2 separate regions of the Homo sapiens genome follow, and region 2 is linked to region 1. Evidence: fine-mapped expression QTL. Tissue or cell type: cerebellum. Region 1 holds a variant in brackets; the other region holds the start of a gene. All regions are shown on one strand. Distances are between the middles of the regions.

Evidence for each region. PIP is the estimated chance that this variant, and not a neighbour inherited with it, causes the effect.
Region 2: WDR17 starts here. The variant in region 1 is fine-mapped to the expression of WDR17 in cerebellum (GTEx, PIP 0.98).

What each region holds. Positions count from the first base shown.
Region 1 is chr4:176,183,655-176,191,767 of GRCh38, reverse strand. SPATA4 (spermatogenesis associated 4) reads left to right here. Exons shown (of 6, transcript NM_144644.4): 5 at 3,533-3,649; 6 at 6,876-7,189. The coding sequence ends at 6,988. Among named protein-coding and RNA genes, the nearest start is that of SPATA4, 7.9 kb to the left of the region's middle. The variant C/T (reference allele first, on the strand shown) is at 4,364.
Region 2 is chr4:176,062,017-176,070,129 of GRCh38, reverse strand. WDR17 (WD repeat domain 17) reads right to left here and starts at 4,289. Exons shown (of 29, transcript NM_181265.4): 1 at 4,051-4,289. RefSeq lists a silencer at 4,034-4,413.

The sequences.
Region 1 (8,113 bases):
CCATCTCTTATATTTTGTTTTCTCTTCCTTGATTTTTCTCATCTCTGGCTTTACTCATAAATTCATGAATAAAGACGTGATTCAGGTTATTAATGAGAAGAGTTTTATCTTGAAACATTTTGCATGTTTTTAAACATTAAAATTTTGCTGTGATATTTATCACACATGCACGTATATAATGTATATGTACAATTTAAAGAAGATGACTAACGATGAAAACACATTTGTATATCCCTACACAGGTTAAGAAATAGAACATTACTAATGCCTTTACCTTCCCCTTTGTGTCCTCGGACTGCATTCTCCACATTCCCTTCCAAGAGTAACTATCATCCTGCTGCCTTTGTTTATAATTTCCTTAACTTAGAAATCTAGGCCGGGTGCGGTGGCTCACGCCTGTAATCCCAGCACTTTGGGAGGCCAAGGCAGGCGGATCACGAGGTCAAAAGTTTGAGACCAGCCTGACCAACATGGTGAAATCCCGTCTCTACTAAAAACACAAAAATTAGCTGGGCATGGTGGCGTGTGCCTGTAATCCCAGCTACTGGGGAGGCTGAAGCAGGAGAATGGCTTGAACCCAGGAGGCTTAGGTTGCAGTGAGCCGAGATTGTGCCACTGCACTCCAGCCTGGGTGATAAAGTGAGACTCTGTCTCAAAAAAAAAAAAAAAAATCTATACATACTATTTATATATTATTCTTTATTTCATTTACCTATACATACTATTTAAATATTATTTTTTACTTCATTCATATATATTTTTAAGTTTAGTTGATTTTATGAAACTCTGTAGTAGGCAGAATGAGCCCCCCTGCTATCCATGTCCTAATCCCTGAAACCTGTGAATATGATACTTTACATCTGCAAAGAGACTTTGCAGATGTAAAGTTATGGACCCCAAGATAGGGTGTGTTTGCTGGCTTATTCAGGCAGACCTGATCTAATCACACAAACCCTTAGAAGCAGAGATCTTTCTTCAGCTGGAATCAAGACACATGTAGGAGAAGGAGAAGTAAGAGATCTGGAGTGTGATAGGGTCTCAACCTGCTATTGCTACAAGGGACAACATGGAAAGCATGAGAAGGTATGTGGTGCAGCTTCCAGGAGCAAAGAATTACCTTGGGCTGACAGCCAGGCAATAAACAGGGGCCTGAGTCCTGCAAACATAAGAAACTGCATTCTGCCAAAGAGCTGAGTGAGCCTGGGAGAAGATTCATCCCCAGAACTTCCAGAAAGGAATGCAGCCCTGCCAATACCTTGCTTTCAGCCTCGTGAGACTCTAAATAGAGGACACAGACTTCTGTACCATGAGATAAAAATGGCTGTTTTAAGTCATGATATTTGTGGTAATTTGTTATGGCAGGAATGAAAATCAAATACAAGCTTCATAGTTAACACTGTTCCCATAATGAGATTATAAATATATCCTCCTATATTTAAATTGATTAAAGTGAAACCTTTTAAAGTTTAAATTGATTAAAGTGAAAACCTGTAATCTGTTAAGGGAGGAGACCACCCCCCTATCGTCTTATGCCCAATTTTGCCTCCAAAGAAAGAAGAAGTAAAAACTAAAAGGCAGAAATGAAATCCACAGGCAGACAGCCCAGTGCCGCGACCTGGGCCTGGTAGTTAAAGATCGACACCTGACCTAATCGGTTGTGTTATCTATAGATTATAGACATTGTAAAGAAAAGCACTGTGAAGATCCCTGTCCTGTTCTGTTCCATTCTAATTACCGGTGCACGCAGCCCCCAGTCACGTACCCGCTGCTTGCTCAATCAATCAGGACCCTCTCACGTGCACCCCCTTAGAGTTGTGAGCCCTTAAAAGGGACAGGAATTGCTCACTCAGAGAGCTCAGCTCTTGAGACAGGGGTCTTGCTGAAGTTCCCGGATGAATAAACTGCTTCCTTCTTTAACTTGGTGTCTGAGGGGTTTTGTCTGCGGCTTGTCCTGCTACACTGTTACTTCATCTGCAATCCATATGAAGAACCAATTGCCTCAGCTGCATGTTTTGAGTAGTCTGTTCTTTTCCCACTTATTTGTAATGCCCTCTCATGTTTCAGTTTGCATGTATGTATGGGTCTGTTTCTGAACCTTCTATTCCAGTTTGTCTACATGTGTGTCACTTCAGCATCTTAATTATTATTGCTTTATAATTAGTGTTGATACTTTGTAAAGTCCTAAAATTTGTTCTTCTATGAAGTATTGTTTCTATTTCATTTACAGTGATTTATTGTTATGAATTTATTAATACTGCCCGTTGTTATATGTATTCATATCTAACATACTATTTTGAGTTTTTTTTTTCTCTTTTTCTGTTTCTTCTTTTCATCTTACCTATCTTTTCTTCTTTTGGACTAAGTTTTTTTCCAAAGATTTTTTTTCCCACTAATTTTGAACATTTTAAATCTCTACTCTTTTTAGTGCTAATCTATACATTTTAGCATGCATATTTATCTTAGTCTAAAATTAATCTTTACTCTCTTCCTGAAACTGCAAGGACCTTAGAACACTATGACACTGATCCCTCGCTGCCACCCCTTCACCTCCTTTCAGTTCGTTGTCTAGCATTTCAGTTCTGTCCAGTTATATTTTAACACCACAAATCAGGCATCATTGACTTTTCTGTTTAAAAGTCTATCTTTGTAGAAAACTAACCTGTATCTCTGTTGTCTTTTGAACACATTTTTTCTTTAACTACAGATCATCTAAACCCTTCCAATTCTTGAGCAGTGCTCTTTTTCCAGTCTTGATTCCTGAGACTGCTGATTTTAAACATTTCTCATTTGTGGCCAAAGTAATTAATTGTGATAACTATAGTTCTGGCAGTGTTACTGGCCAGAGTTGTGTTTAGTGTTGACAGAGCATGACTGGTGAGTAGGAATTAACTTAGCAACTTCTTCAAGCCTCAGTGAAGGATGAGTTGCAGAGGAGGAAGTGATCTTTAGAAGCACAAGGAAATTGCTCAAGTATTTCAGTTTACAGGATTAGTTAAAAAGAAATATGGGAAACATGGAAATAATTTTAATTCACAAATATGTGCAAAATGAAAGATACTGTATGATTTTATCAAATATAAAAATACATAAAACTAACCTATAATGATAGAAGTCAGGATAGCATTTTCCTTTTAGAATACTGTCTTGGAAAGACATGAGGGGGCTTTGGGGTACTGGTAACACATCATTTCTTGATCTGGATGATGGTACCCTAAGTGTATTCACTCACACATTCATTGGAGTGAATTATACTTACTGTTTGTTTACCTTTTTGTATATACATTATAATTGAATAAAAACTTACCAAAGACTAACAGGAACATAAATATATTACCTTTAAAGTAACTATTTTGTGTATTAAATATATTGTGAGCAATGTGGGGAGGGACTATTAACCTAGGTATTCACACTACTCAGGAATATGATAAACAGAAATTTAAATAATTTACTTAATTTTTAAATTATGGCATCTTATTTTGACAATGGCCATTATGGCTTTTTAAGAAATAACTTTTGTGTTCATATTTTATAGAATGGTTTGATGTGAAACCAACAGTGGGAGAAGTTACTCTCAATCACCTTCCTGCCCAAGCCTCTGGGCGCAGATATAATTTAAAAGTTAAAAGAGGAAGAGTTGTCCCTGTTTTACGTAAGTTTTAACTCTTTGCTTCTTAAAATTGATTTTTTTTTGCTTGACTTTCTTCAATTAAAGTTTTAAAAAACGGTTAAATAGTTAAAATGTTGGTATAGGTCAACATTCAGTCCTACACTGCCAATTACACTGGTATGCAGTTCTTTATGATAAGTGAAGGGAACATGTGGTCTGCTAAGTCGCTGCCCCCTCCCCAGCCTGCTACAATCAGATCCACTGAGTTCTGATTTATGCTTAAATAGGTGAGTTGGAAACACGTCAGGCTCATTAGAGTTCAAAGCTCAGTTCTTCAGTAGTCAGAGGATGAGTCAGTCAGTCCTGAGACAGATATAGATACTTGCATACTAAGAATTCTCAATCAGTTGTATTACAAGAAGTCACTTGATTAAACCCTGTTAATTCAGAAAGCATTTATACTACAGGAAACTGTAGCCCATGGTCCAAATTCAGCCTGTTGCCTGTTTTTGTATAGTTCACAAGTTAAAAATAGTTTTTACTTTTTTTCTTTTTTGGAGACGGAGTCTCACTCTGTCACCCAGGCTGGAGTGCAGTGGTGTGATCTCGGCTCACTGCAACTTCCACCTCCTGGGTTCAAGCGATTCTCCTGACTCAGCCTCCTGAGTAGCTGGGACTACAACGCACGGTGCCACGCCTGGCTAATTTTTTGTATTTTAGTAGAGATGGGGTTTCACCGTGTTGCCCAGGCTGGTC[C/T]TGAACTCCTGAGCTCAGGCAGTCCACCCTCCTCGGCCTCCCAAACTGCTAGGATTTCATGGTTAAAAAAAAAATCAAAAGAAAAATAGTAATTCCTGACACATAAAAATGCTATGAAATTCAAGTTCCCGTGCTCATAAATAACAGGGAACAGAGCCACTCCTGCTCATTTTATGCCTTGCTTACGGCTGCTTTGACCCTTCAACAGTTGGGTTGAGTAGTTGCCAAGGTGACTGTCTAGTCTAGAAAGTTGAGTTGCCAGATTTAGCAAATAAAAACACAGGGCAATGCAACAAATACCTCTGAGGACATATTTAGGACACACTTTTACTAAAAATTATTCATTATTTATCTGAAATTCAAATTTAACTAGGTGTCCTATATTTTATCTGGCAACCCTACCACAAAGCCTAAAATATGTACTCTCCAGCCCTTTACAGAAAATGTGTGTGGACTTCTGCTACAGATTATGTTTCCTGACGTGTTGAGGGATTTCGCCGGGGATAAAAGTTATTTGTTTACATAGAGTCTTTGAGAGCAGTGCCAATGTTCCTTTTTTTAAAAAAACAAAAAAAAACCATGATTTCTCAGAACCTTTAATATGCTAATATGCATTGTAAATATTAAAGGGGAGAGAAGCAGAATGAAGTGTTTTCCAAACTCTATTTGATCACACATCACTATTTGGTTTTGCTTTGTTTGGTGGCCTTGTAGAACTAGTGTTCCTCATAGCACACTTTTTAATGTCCAAACATCAGGCCAGCCCATCAAAATCCCTTTAACTCTTCAACCACCTGAGGCATAGTAAACATAATAGAATCCAACGGAAGTGGATAACAATGTTTCCATGAATAAAATGCATCCATAGTTTCACCTTTAGATTCTAGGAATATATCCTCTCCTTCAGCCTGCCTCAACCTTCTTCTGTTGGTGACATTTGTGGTGAAAGTTCCAGCAGGGAGGGAGGTGAAGCCACAGTGGTAGGGTGAGCATAGGAGGAGGGGATCAGGAGGTATGGAAAGGAAACTGCAGGTAAGTTTTGTTTTTGTGTTTAACTTGCTTGCCTCGTTCCCCTTATGATTAACTGAATTTCACTGGGAAAGGGAAAGAGCAGGGTCACCTGCTTTGGACATGCAGTGAAAAGGTAGAAAAGAGTAGTAATGAGTCACAGCACGGCTTCCTTCCAGTATAAGAAAGAGATGCAAATAGGCCAGAGACAAAAACTGATGCCTGCTGATATTTGAATTGCTAAAGAGTATTTCTCATTTTTGTTATCTTTTTTGAAAATCTTCAAGGTTCACATATGAGTTTTTAGAAAAACTACATGCTATCATTACTTCAGATCAGGATTCCAAGTAAAATGAATTTTTGCTTTTACAATTTTAATAATGTATAAGTGGCCATAAATAACTCCTCCCATTTTATTCTCTACTGCTCTTTTTTATGATTCTCTGGTTGCTCTTTTATGATTCACTTTCATCTCAATAGTCTTGCTCTCTTTGGAAAAAGAGATGGGTTTATGGAAGCCTTCATTGGACAAGGTAGATCAGGATGGGAAGGTGAACATACATTTATTTTTTTTACTTGTCTCAATCCTGTTCCAGATAATATACTTGGATTCTCTTAATCTAGGCACATAGTAAATTAATGAATGATGTGGATTCAGCTTTGGTAATTATATGGATGAGAACTATTAAGTGTTAAATAATTTTTTCTAAATTTGTTCAAAGGACTTCATTTCAGTTTCTGATAAGAGAGTAGAGTAAATAGTTCAGGTCTGCTACCATAGTTTGATAGTTAATGGAAGGAGGAGAAGCAAAAACACTAGACTGTAGGAACGTAACTCTGTTTTACCATCTAAGATTTCATATAATGGCACTGAAATCACAGGCTGTTCACCTGAAAATCTTCTAATTATCAAACAGGGGGGCCAAAATTAATTGTAAGTTAGGTTGTTACCTTTGCTTTTTTCTTTTTATAACACTCAAGTTCCTCTACTTGTTCACCAAAATTTAGTTATCTAGCAAAATTATGGGCCAATGGAATATAGATGTCTTAGTTGCCACTGGCCCCTCCCATTAGAACTGAGTGACCTACAGAGTCTGGGTGGCTAGCTGGAATGCCTCAGTGTAATCAGAGCTCCATAAACTGTATTATGAATCATGGACGTTTGTCAAATCTAAGTATAAAATTGTGCTACTGTTGCCTCAGCTGCTTTCTGAAGCAATATCTAAGAATAGTTGGGTCATATTCAGTATCAGATGCACCAAAATAAGCCCTGGAGATTTTTAGGCTGATGACTTTTGGAAGTGGCTGACATTCAGACTTTTTTTAATCCATGAGTACTATAATGCGTGATTTAAATATTCTTGTTTACCAGGCATTTAGATTAACTGTGCTTGACCTCTTGCCAATCATTCTGCATATATTTGATACATTAGACATGTTGATGCTTGTATGAATATTTAGTAACCATGAATTGATTTTAATTTTGCTTATTTAAATGTCCCAGCAAATATAGGTAGTGGTGGCAGTTCACATAGAGAAATACATGTGAAGCAAGCTGGACAACATTCTTATTACTCTGCTATGAAACCTATCAGAAACATGGACAAGAAACCTTGAAAAGCACCTGTCAAATGGCTTTGAAGAAGTGATGCCACCATCTCTAGCCATAATAAAGAAACAGAATCACCTAGTATTGGATGTATTTCAATAATAAATAGAGTGGTGTCTTTTCCATAATTGTGTTAAAGAACATTTCTTTTCCATTCAATTTGTTTATTAAACTCCTATGCCAGGCATTGTTGAAAATACAAAATTAAATAAATTAGTACAGAATGAGCAAAAATAATTTTAAAGGTATAAACATAATTCACCATGATGAATAAAGAGTTCTTTCTCATAATTTTGTAGGAATGGTGAATCTACTTTTTCATATGCTTTCCTTATTAGAAATTAAAGGTTACTGCTTTGCCTATTATATAGTTACACATCACATTCATTAATTAAATCGTATTCTGAATGATTATTATACTTTGGCCCATAGAACATCTTGATCATCTCTAAGAACAGCCTGAACTTAAACCATTAAAAAAAAACAGGTGTCCCTTCTATTGAAAACAAGTTGTGGGGAAAGAAAATCATCCTTTTCTTGGAATTTGATTCGGTGTTTAGCAATACATTTAGTTCAATTTAAAAGTTCCCACTGGTTGCTGCTATGCCCCATATTTTAACTGAAGGGAAACAAAAGCAGACTGATGTCCTGAAAAATTAATAATCTTTTATATATACATGGTAATTTTATGTTTTATATGTGGAAAATTTTCAACTGGTATTATTTATGTTTGATACTGGCTCATTAATAGTCTCATTTGACTCCCAAGATGAATATTACTAATGTCAATTTTCAGTTAAACTTACCAGATTTTCTGCATTTTTGAAAGTTCAGACTGTTTTATTAGCAATTCTACCTCCAGAGACTTCCTTGTTAAATTTTGCATTTTTAGAGAGATAATATTGAAGAAGACTAAGAAAGCCCGGATGATACAGATAACTTACTGGGAATGTGTTCAAAATCCAGTTTTATCTGAGGTAAGAGATCTAGGTCAAATGCATATCTTAATCAGCTATAAGTAATGTATCTGTTGTCTTGCACTCTCATGGGACAATCTAAAGTACAAAATTATGAGAATAACTTTTAACCTATATAGTTCCTTTGGAAAAGGTTTGAGAAACAAGTCTCTGAAG
Region 2 (8,113 bases), 120 kb after region 1:
AGTAGAACATAAGCCAGCTTTTCCCTTATTAATTTTGAGAACATAATTTTTATGTGTTTAGTGTCCTCATTAACAGAATAACGGTGTTAGAGTAACTGGTCTTAAGGATCCTTCTATCATAAATTCCAAAATGACCCCTTCAAACCTGTTTACCTTAAAAATAAAATGTTGCATAACTCTTTTCATTAAAAGTCATCCATAATGTTTTATCTTAAAGAATCAAACTTAATTAAATGTTAGCTATTTCTTATTAACCAACTATTCATTTTTTTGAGACTCCATGTGGAGCTGTTTGTATTGTAATGAAGGGTTTTTTTAATAGCATGTTAAACACGAGTGCTTTGTGTAATAAAAATTATTTTCTACTTTCCGATTTGAAAGTAAGTTTTCTGTGTGCGTGATATGAAATTGAACTTACTACACATCATTGTAAATGAGTCTGCCTGGGACACTGGTACATGCTTACAACTAAAAAAAATGGGAAGAATCTGGAAGAAGAAAACAATAAACCTAAGCATAAGAAAAATTGTTTAAGGACCTCAATCTTGAGTTCTCCATCTCAGAACATTTGAATGTACAAAACAAGTATTGACTGTTATAACATCTTCACTGACACATGGAAATTTATTTCTTACACTTTTGCTACAATTTATCCGAACATGACAATTATCAATCATCCTTATCATAGCAAATAACATTGTTAAATTACCTCCTGTATTATCTTAATTATAGATTTATATTACTGTCTATTTCTACAGTACATTTTTTAAATTAGAATGTAGAATTACAGAATTTTATAAGACAGCTTACTGAACAATACTTTGTAAGTACATTTAACATAATAAAAAGTAAGACTTTTATCAATATATATATATAAATTATTTTCCTCAAGTAGCTGATAATGTGACATCTGGAAGGCAGGTGCCAGCTGTGGCTCCAATATCAAGTTCTTTTTTTTTCTTACAAAATCTAGCCTATTTGAAATGTTTGACTAGTCACTGAAATTATACCTGTCTAGTCACTGAAATCAGATGAAAACAACCTGAACTCTGCCTTCTAATGTGACAGCCCATGCTTTAAGCATGGAAACTTTTCAAATCTTTCTAATTAATCGTGATGGGAATTTTTCTTTTACTATACAAAGCTGATCATTTTATATTATTTCTACCAATTTTTATTACCAAAGTTGCAAGTCCTTCGTGAACATTTTAAGTAAACTCAAATAAGAAAAATGTTTTTCTCTAGGTTTTGTTTCCTTATAGAGTAGATTCTTTGGGAGAATTTCTAAAATTCTCTTCAGGTATCCGTATCTAATTTCTTGCTCACAAATTTCAAGGAATAGTTTTATCAACAATGAAAGAATAATCACGATACTATTTTAACAGGATAAAGCACAGTCTTGGGTATCAAAAAGTACCAACCAAATCTTAAGTTTCATATGTTTCTGATACAAAAGAAAAGGAGCATGAATTAATAAAAAATCCCTTCCAATATCCTCCTTTTTTTCTTTTTCTTTTCTTTAATTTTTTTGACGTTGTCTTGCTCTGTCGCCCAGGCTGGCATGCAGTGGCGCAATCTTGGCTCACTGCAACCTCCGGGCCTCCTGGGTTCAAGAGATTCTCATGCCTCAGCCTCCCAAGTAGCTGGGATTACAGACGTGCACCACCACGCCCAGCTAATTTTTGTATTATTAGTACACATGGGGTTTCACCATGTTGGCCAGACTGGTCTCAAACTCCTCACCTCAGGTGATCCGCCTGCCTCAGCCTCCCAAAGTGCCGGGATTACAGGTATGAGCCACCGCACGCAGCCTATCCTCATATGATTTCTATAAATTAATATAATTTCGATGAAATCTCTGTTCCTGAAGACGTACTGGAAGATACATGACTTCACTTTAATATTTCCATCTGTTCAATGGAAGAGGTATACAAAATGTAAAATGAGATAATTCAGCAGTGGTCAAAAGTAGCAATGATGCTTCCATATACATAATTATCATGAATAGCTGGGTAAACTCTTAAGTATTCAGTATTACAATTCAGTAATCTGATAAAGCGTTACCTTTCTTGCATATGTTAGATTTCAAAGAAATTCTGGAATATAGGATGAAAATGTGAATCCTTCAAAACTGTCAGAATTACATTTTAGTCGTCATTAAAGTATTTAGGCAACAAAATCAGGTACTCTGGAGAATTTACACATTTCATTAATAGTGACAACCTAATCATTCATGTTGGACTTCTAGTATCCATCAGGGTAAAACCATAAAACAAACAAACAGAAACCTGTTCTTAAACTTCTCCAAGTAATTAAAAAACTGCCACTGGCCCTGTCCCTCCTTTCCCAGACTAAAGGATACAAGATAGAGTCTGTAGAAAACAGCAACAACAAAAGCAATCTAGCCCTAGTCTCCCCTCTACTGGGAGCATTGTTTTTCTGGCCTAAATTAATTTATGGCTTTCTAATCTATGGAATTATTTATGTGACTAATGGGTAACTTAAAAATATTTAGAACACCACTATTTATCATTAGAAATAAGAAGAATAAAGAATGTTAAAACTTTCAAGTAAGCATATTTAACGTCTTCTTCAGATGTCCACAGTTTTTTAAGCAGTTCTATTAATATCAACACAAGAGAAAGTCAGAACAATGTAAACAATAACATTCAACTAGTTATTTTTACATAATTACGTTTGCAGAACTCAAGAGCTTTACTTTCCGTATATGCCCTTTGAAATAAGTCATTGCTTTAAAACTTCCCAGGAACTCTAAAGCTACCATTTGTAACATTAATCTCCAAACAATCCAGTAAAGGATGTTTCCCAAAATATTAACGAATTGACAACTTTTCAAAAGCACTTAATAACTATATTTAATTTTAGATGATAGGAGGGGAAAGGTTCTCAGACCACCTATCTCAGACGTCTGCCTTCAAAACAGTTAGATATAACTATATCCATTTTCTTGAACACTTAGGCCAGTGAGGCAGAATCTCAAAAGGATGTAAGAGTGCTTTCTCCACAGAGTTTGTTTCACCACCCGCCCAGCATCAGCTCCTGGCAAGCAGGGTAATGATAAGGCATAAATCTACAAATAAATTAATGCTTAAACTCTTGTGGAGTTCAAATTTATAAATTCTCATAAATTCATTGTCATTTATTTTCTAATTTTTACAACGCAGAAATGTTATTAGAGTGCTAAGAACGGCAACTATAATCTCACATTGTTGGGCTTTGGCCGTTTCGTATCCTTTTACAACGAACTTGTGTTTTTTTGATAGTTTTCTCTAAAGGGTATTTATGAAAGATTCAGAAATGTAGTATCTCTCTTCAAACCCTTGTTAAATATATATAGTATATATGTATATATTAATATGCAAAATAATTTATTTTTGATGCATGGTCGGACTTTTCATTACTTTTCATTCGAATCAATTGCTTTTAATTAATATATTTAAAAAGTCTCCTTAAATTGTTTGTTCCTTTCAATCTTTGCAAGCAAAACAAGTCTGATTTTGGAGAGGGGAGGACAGCAAAGATTCTATTTTACGATCTACTTAATAAATAGTATACCTGCCTTATATCCAATACCGTCTTTTTTCTGGAACGCATTTCCTTTTTACTCAAACCTTTCTTAGTACAACCCTACTAATAAGTCCATCTTCAAAGGGGTAAATGATCTATACAGAAGTGTCTGGCCGGCGGAGGGATGAGAACAGCAACCTAGGCTCTAGACATATACTTAATAGCCATAAAAATAAAACAATGTCCCTCGAAATGTCCACAGTTTACACTGCAATGGTAGTTTAGATACATAAATATTCGCTGCTTGCTGTGCCTTGTAAGAATCAGGTGTGTGGCTCTAAAACTCAGTTGATTATCTCATCAGGCACCATGGTGTGCAAAGCCCTGCAGGACGTACATTACCCTGGTCCGCGATCACAGGGAGGTCAGAGCCCCTCTCGCATGACGCCGCGACAGTTCCAGCATCACCCACATCAATCCTGAGCTTGCCTTGGTATCTCTGCGGCCCCACCGGCTTCTTACCTGGAGGAGGAGGCGGCTGCAGCGGCGGACAGCGGAAGGTGCTGAAGCCGGCGGGCGCAGCTGCGAGGCGAGCACCACCAACGCGCGGACCCTCCCCGCCCTCCCCGCCTGCTCGCTCAGGGCGCCCGGGGGCGGGGCGGCCGGGCCCGCGGGCTCCGAGGGGCGGGAAGCGTGCTCCGCAAGCCCCAGCGCGGAGCCACGATGGAAGGCGCCGCGAGCCCGATCTCCAGGGTCTGCCCCAGAGGCCCACGTGACAGCTACACAGGTCGCTGATTGGAGCGCCCGAGAGGGGGAGGCGGAAGTGGCTCGTGACCCTTGGAGACTAGGCTGAGGGAGAAGTGGTTACCTGGCAACAGAGAAAGTGTGTTGAAGGCGCAGCTCCTCCGTACTGGAGCGAGGCTTTGGGCAGAGGGTTTGCACTGAGGCTGAAAGTGGAGGAAAACGGTGAACCATCAGCGTTCTCACCACCTAACACATTTTATAGCGAGTCTGCACTTTCTAGGAAAATGAGTCAAATATACAGTAAGTCAGTCATCCTGTCTCTTTCTTGAGGGACCTGGAGGAGGGACTTGAACCAGTGCCTGGAATGTGAGTGCAGAATGCTGTCTCGCCTGCACTTCATTATTGTCTGATTGGGCCCAAGAAGGTCTGTGGGAGAGCTCAATGGATAAGATTATTTGTTTATATTAATCGAGTTGTATGTGGTTAATGTATCTGCCTTCACAAAACTGACATTTTCCCTGTGGGATCTGGTTGAATGGAAGTGCTGGATGTTGTCATTCCTACTGGATTCTTCACATCTCTGAAATATCTTCACTACCTGTGGCCTTTATCCAACACACTAGAGAGAATAAGCCTCGACGTACTCGAAACAAAGTGTATTTAATGACATCTATCGAGAATTAATTATACTCCACTCTAAATAGTTAATAAATGAATGGTCGACCTCAACCAGAGAAAGTCCCTGGGCCTAATTCTTACCTTCCTATGCAGTAGATTTTAATGCTCCTTTTTTCCAAAATATTCTCTGCAGAGACGAGTACCTACCACAGCACTCAATATTCTATATTGTAAATTAAAATTAACTTAAATGTTGGATTTCCATATAAAGAATAAACTTGTTAAAGCTAAAATCAGTTCTTACAACTCCGTCCCCTATATTCTAACAAAGTATCTGATGAATAGCAGGTCTTCAATTAATTCTTGATGGATAGATGGATAAAGAAAGAAAGAAATTAGCACATAATCTACCAGAGAAAGTATAAGGGCAATAACTAAATATAACTCAATGTGTTAAGTACTAAAATAGGGTTACATAAAAGTGCTATGAGATGATTTCAGATGAGGGAGGCAGAACTTTTTCTTCCAAGGTATTCAGAGAAGCTTTCAATATGATTAGTATTTGAGCAGGGACTTATAAATAGGTAGAATTTCACCTGATAAAAAGGGGAAAGTGTATACTATGCAGCAGGAGCAGCATTGCCAAAAGCATAAAGTGGGAAAAAATAAACGATTGATGTAAATAAATTTGATGTTTTTGCCTTCTCCGGAGTTGGGGATGTGAATCCAAAGATAAGAAGGAAGATGGAAATTGGCAAAAGACTGTACTAGAAAAATAAGAAAACTTGATTGGGAAAGATGCAGAATTCTATATATGGGTTAGGCTTTAACCTCTAAACCAAAGGAAGAGATTGAAGTTTATAAAATCAGTGCTTTTTCATCAAGAAAGACACCTTGGAAACATTGGAGATACATGGGATGCAGGAAGATGAAGAACATGGTCTGTTAGGAGAAAAATTCAGTAGTTCATGGGAAAAGATGCTGATGACCTGAGTTAAGACAATGAAAATAAGAATAGCGAAGAGGGAAAATCACAAGAAACATTTCTGTGAAAACAGACTATAGTTTTCATTTATGACTGATATTTGCTAGGTATAGTGCTGAATAGTCAATGGTGTACATGAAGAGAAAATGCTGAAGATACAACGTCTAGCTTAGTCCATCGGTTGGACGGAAAAAATCTTTTATGTTTATTTTGCTCATAATGGCTCCAGCTCTCCAGTTAAGAAACAAAAAACCGGCCGGGCGCGGTGTTTCACTCCCGTAATCCCAGCACTTTGGAAGGCCGAGGTGGGCGGATCACCTGAAGTCAGGAGTTTGACGGCAGCGTGGTGGTGAAACCCCGTTCCTACTAAAATACAAGATGAGCTGGGCGTGGTGGCGGGCACCTGTACTTCCAGGTCCTCGGCAGGCTGAGGCAGGAGAATGGCGTGAACCCAGAAGGCGGAGATTGCGCCACTGCACTTTAGCCTGGGTGACAAGAGTGAGACTCCGTCTCAAAAAAAAAAAAGAAAAAAAAGAAAAAGGAAAAAGAAAGAAACATAAAATTGAATGAGACAACTGAAATTATCTAGTTGTGCACTCATAATTTAAAGATGAAGGTGTTTAAATCTCCAGTCATATTAGCAGCAGATTTTGATAGAGTGATCCCGGTCTCCCAGTTCAGGACTCTTATTCCTTTACCAGAATTTAGTTCATTCCTTTTGAACAGATTTAAATAATCACAACTATAGTTAGATTAGATCTAGAGGAACAATATACCTAATTTATAAAACAAAGATCTCTTTACTCTGATTTTTTATTCTTTTATTCAACCAGTATTTAATGTCATATACTCACCTCACAAAGAAAAAATTGTCAGTCACTTAGGCTGACTGACATTTTCAGGGCAATCATTAGTTCTTAGCACTGAGTACCCGGAGTTCTTCATGATTAAATTTAAAAGCAGAGCGATTAGGGAAGCCAAATGACTCCAGTCAAATTCATCTTCAAGGATAGATAGACATGTTCTATGAGTACAATGGCTTTGAAAAGGAAGTTCAATGCAATTTAATGTGGCAAATGCCCTTTTAATATGTATTCTGGATGAGAAATCAACAAGAAAAAAACTTCTTAAACTAAAATTTTAGAAAAATTTAGCCAAAAAGACTTTAGATTCACCTAATTGAAAAGCCCTCTCACACTTTTTTTTAATGTAAAAATGGTAAGAGAGCAGAAACAAGTATAACAGAAAAAAAAACTTAAACTAATGTGCAGTAAATAGTGAACTAAATACTTAAAAATGTACTTTATGTAAAAACACTTAAAAATTGAAATAGTTTTAAATAGATATATAATCTATTGCCACAATATTGATGATTAAGGTAGATATATTTAAATATATCAAAATATTATTATTTCTATTAAGAAATATATTAGAGGTTATTACTCTTTGGTCTTCTTGAGGTATAAAAATGGCTTAAATTAACCAATAATTTTTGCAGAAAATTGAGATTTTTTCTCTAGATCAATATTGATAGAATTCTTTTATTTTTTTAATAATTGCAGAAAATTTGATATTTTTTCTCTAGATCAATATTGATAGAATTCTTTATTTATTATTATTATTATTATTTTGAGACAGAGTGTCACTCTGTTGCCCAGGCTAGAGTGTAGTGGCATGTTCTTGGCTCATCACAACCTCTGCCTCCAGGGTTCAAGTGATTCTCCTGTCTTAGCCTCCTGAGTAGCTAGGATTACAGGCATGTGCCACCACGTCCAGCTAATTTTTTGTATTTTTAGTAGAGACAGGGTTTCACTATGCTGGCCAGGCTGGTCTCGAAATCCTGACCTCAAGCAATCTGCCCGCCTCAGCCTCTGAAAGTGTTGGGATTACAGGCATGAGCCACTGTGCCCAGAGGATCAATATTGAGAGAATTCTTAAAATTGTTTTTAAATTGTAAAATATTTAAACAGGAAAGTACATACAATAATGCAATAAATATCTATAGTTAATAAATTTTGTTTTTGTCATATTTGCGTTGTCTTTGAAAAAAAAAATTGGCTGGATGTGGTGGCTCACACCTGTAATCCCAGCAATTTGGGAGGCCAAGGTGGGCTGATCACGAGGTCAAGAGATTGAGACCATCCTGGCCAACATGGTGAAACCCCGTCTCTACTAAAAATACAAAAAAATTAGCTGGGCGTGGTGGTGAGCTCCTGTAGTCCCAGCTACTCGGGAAGC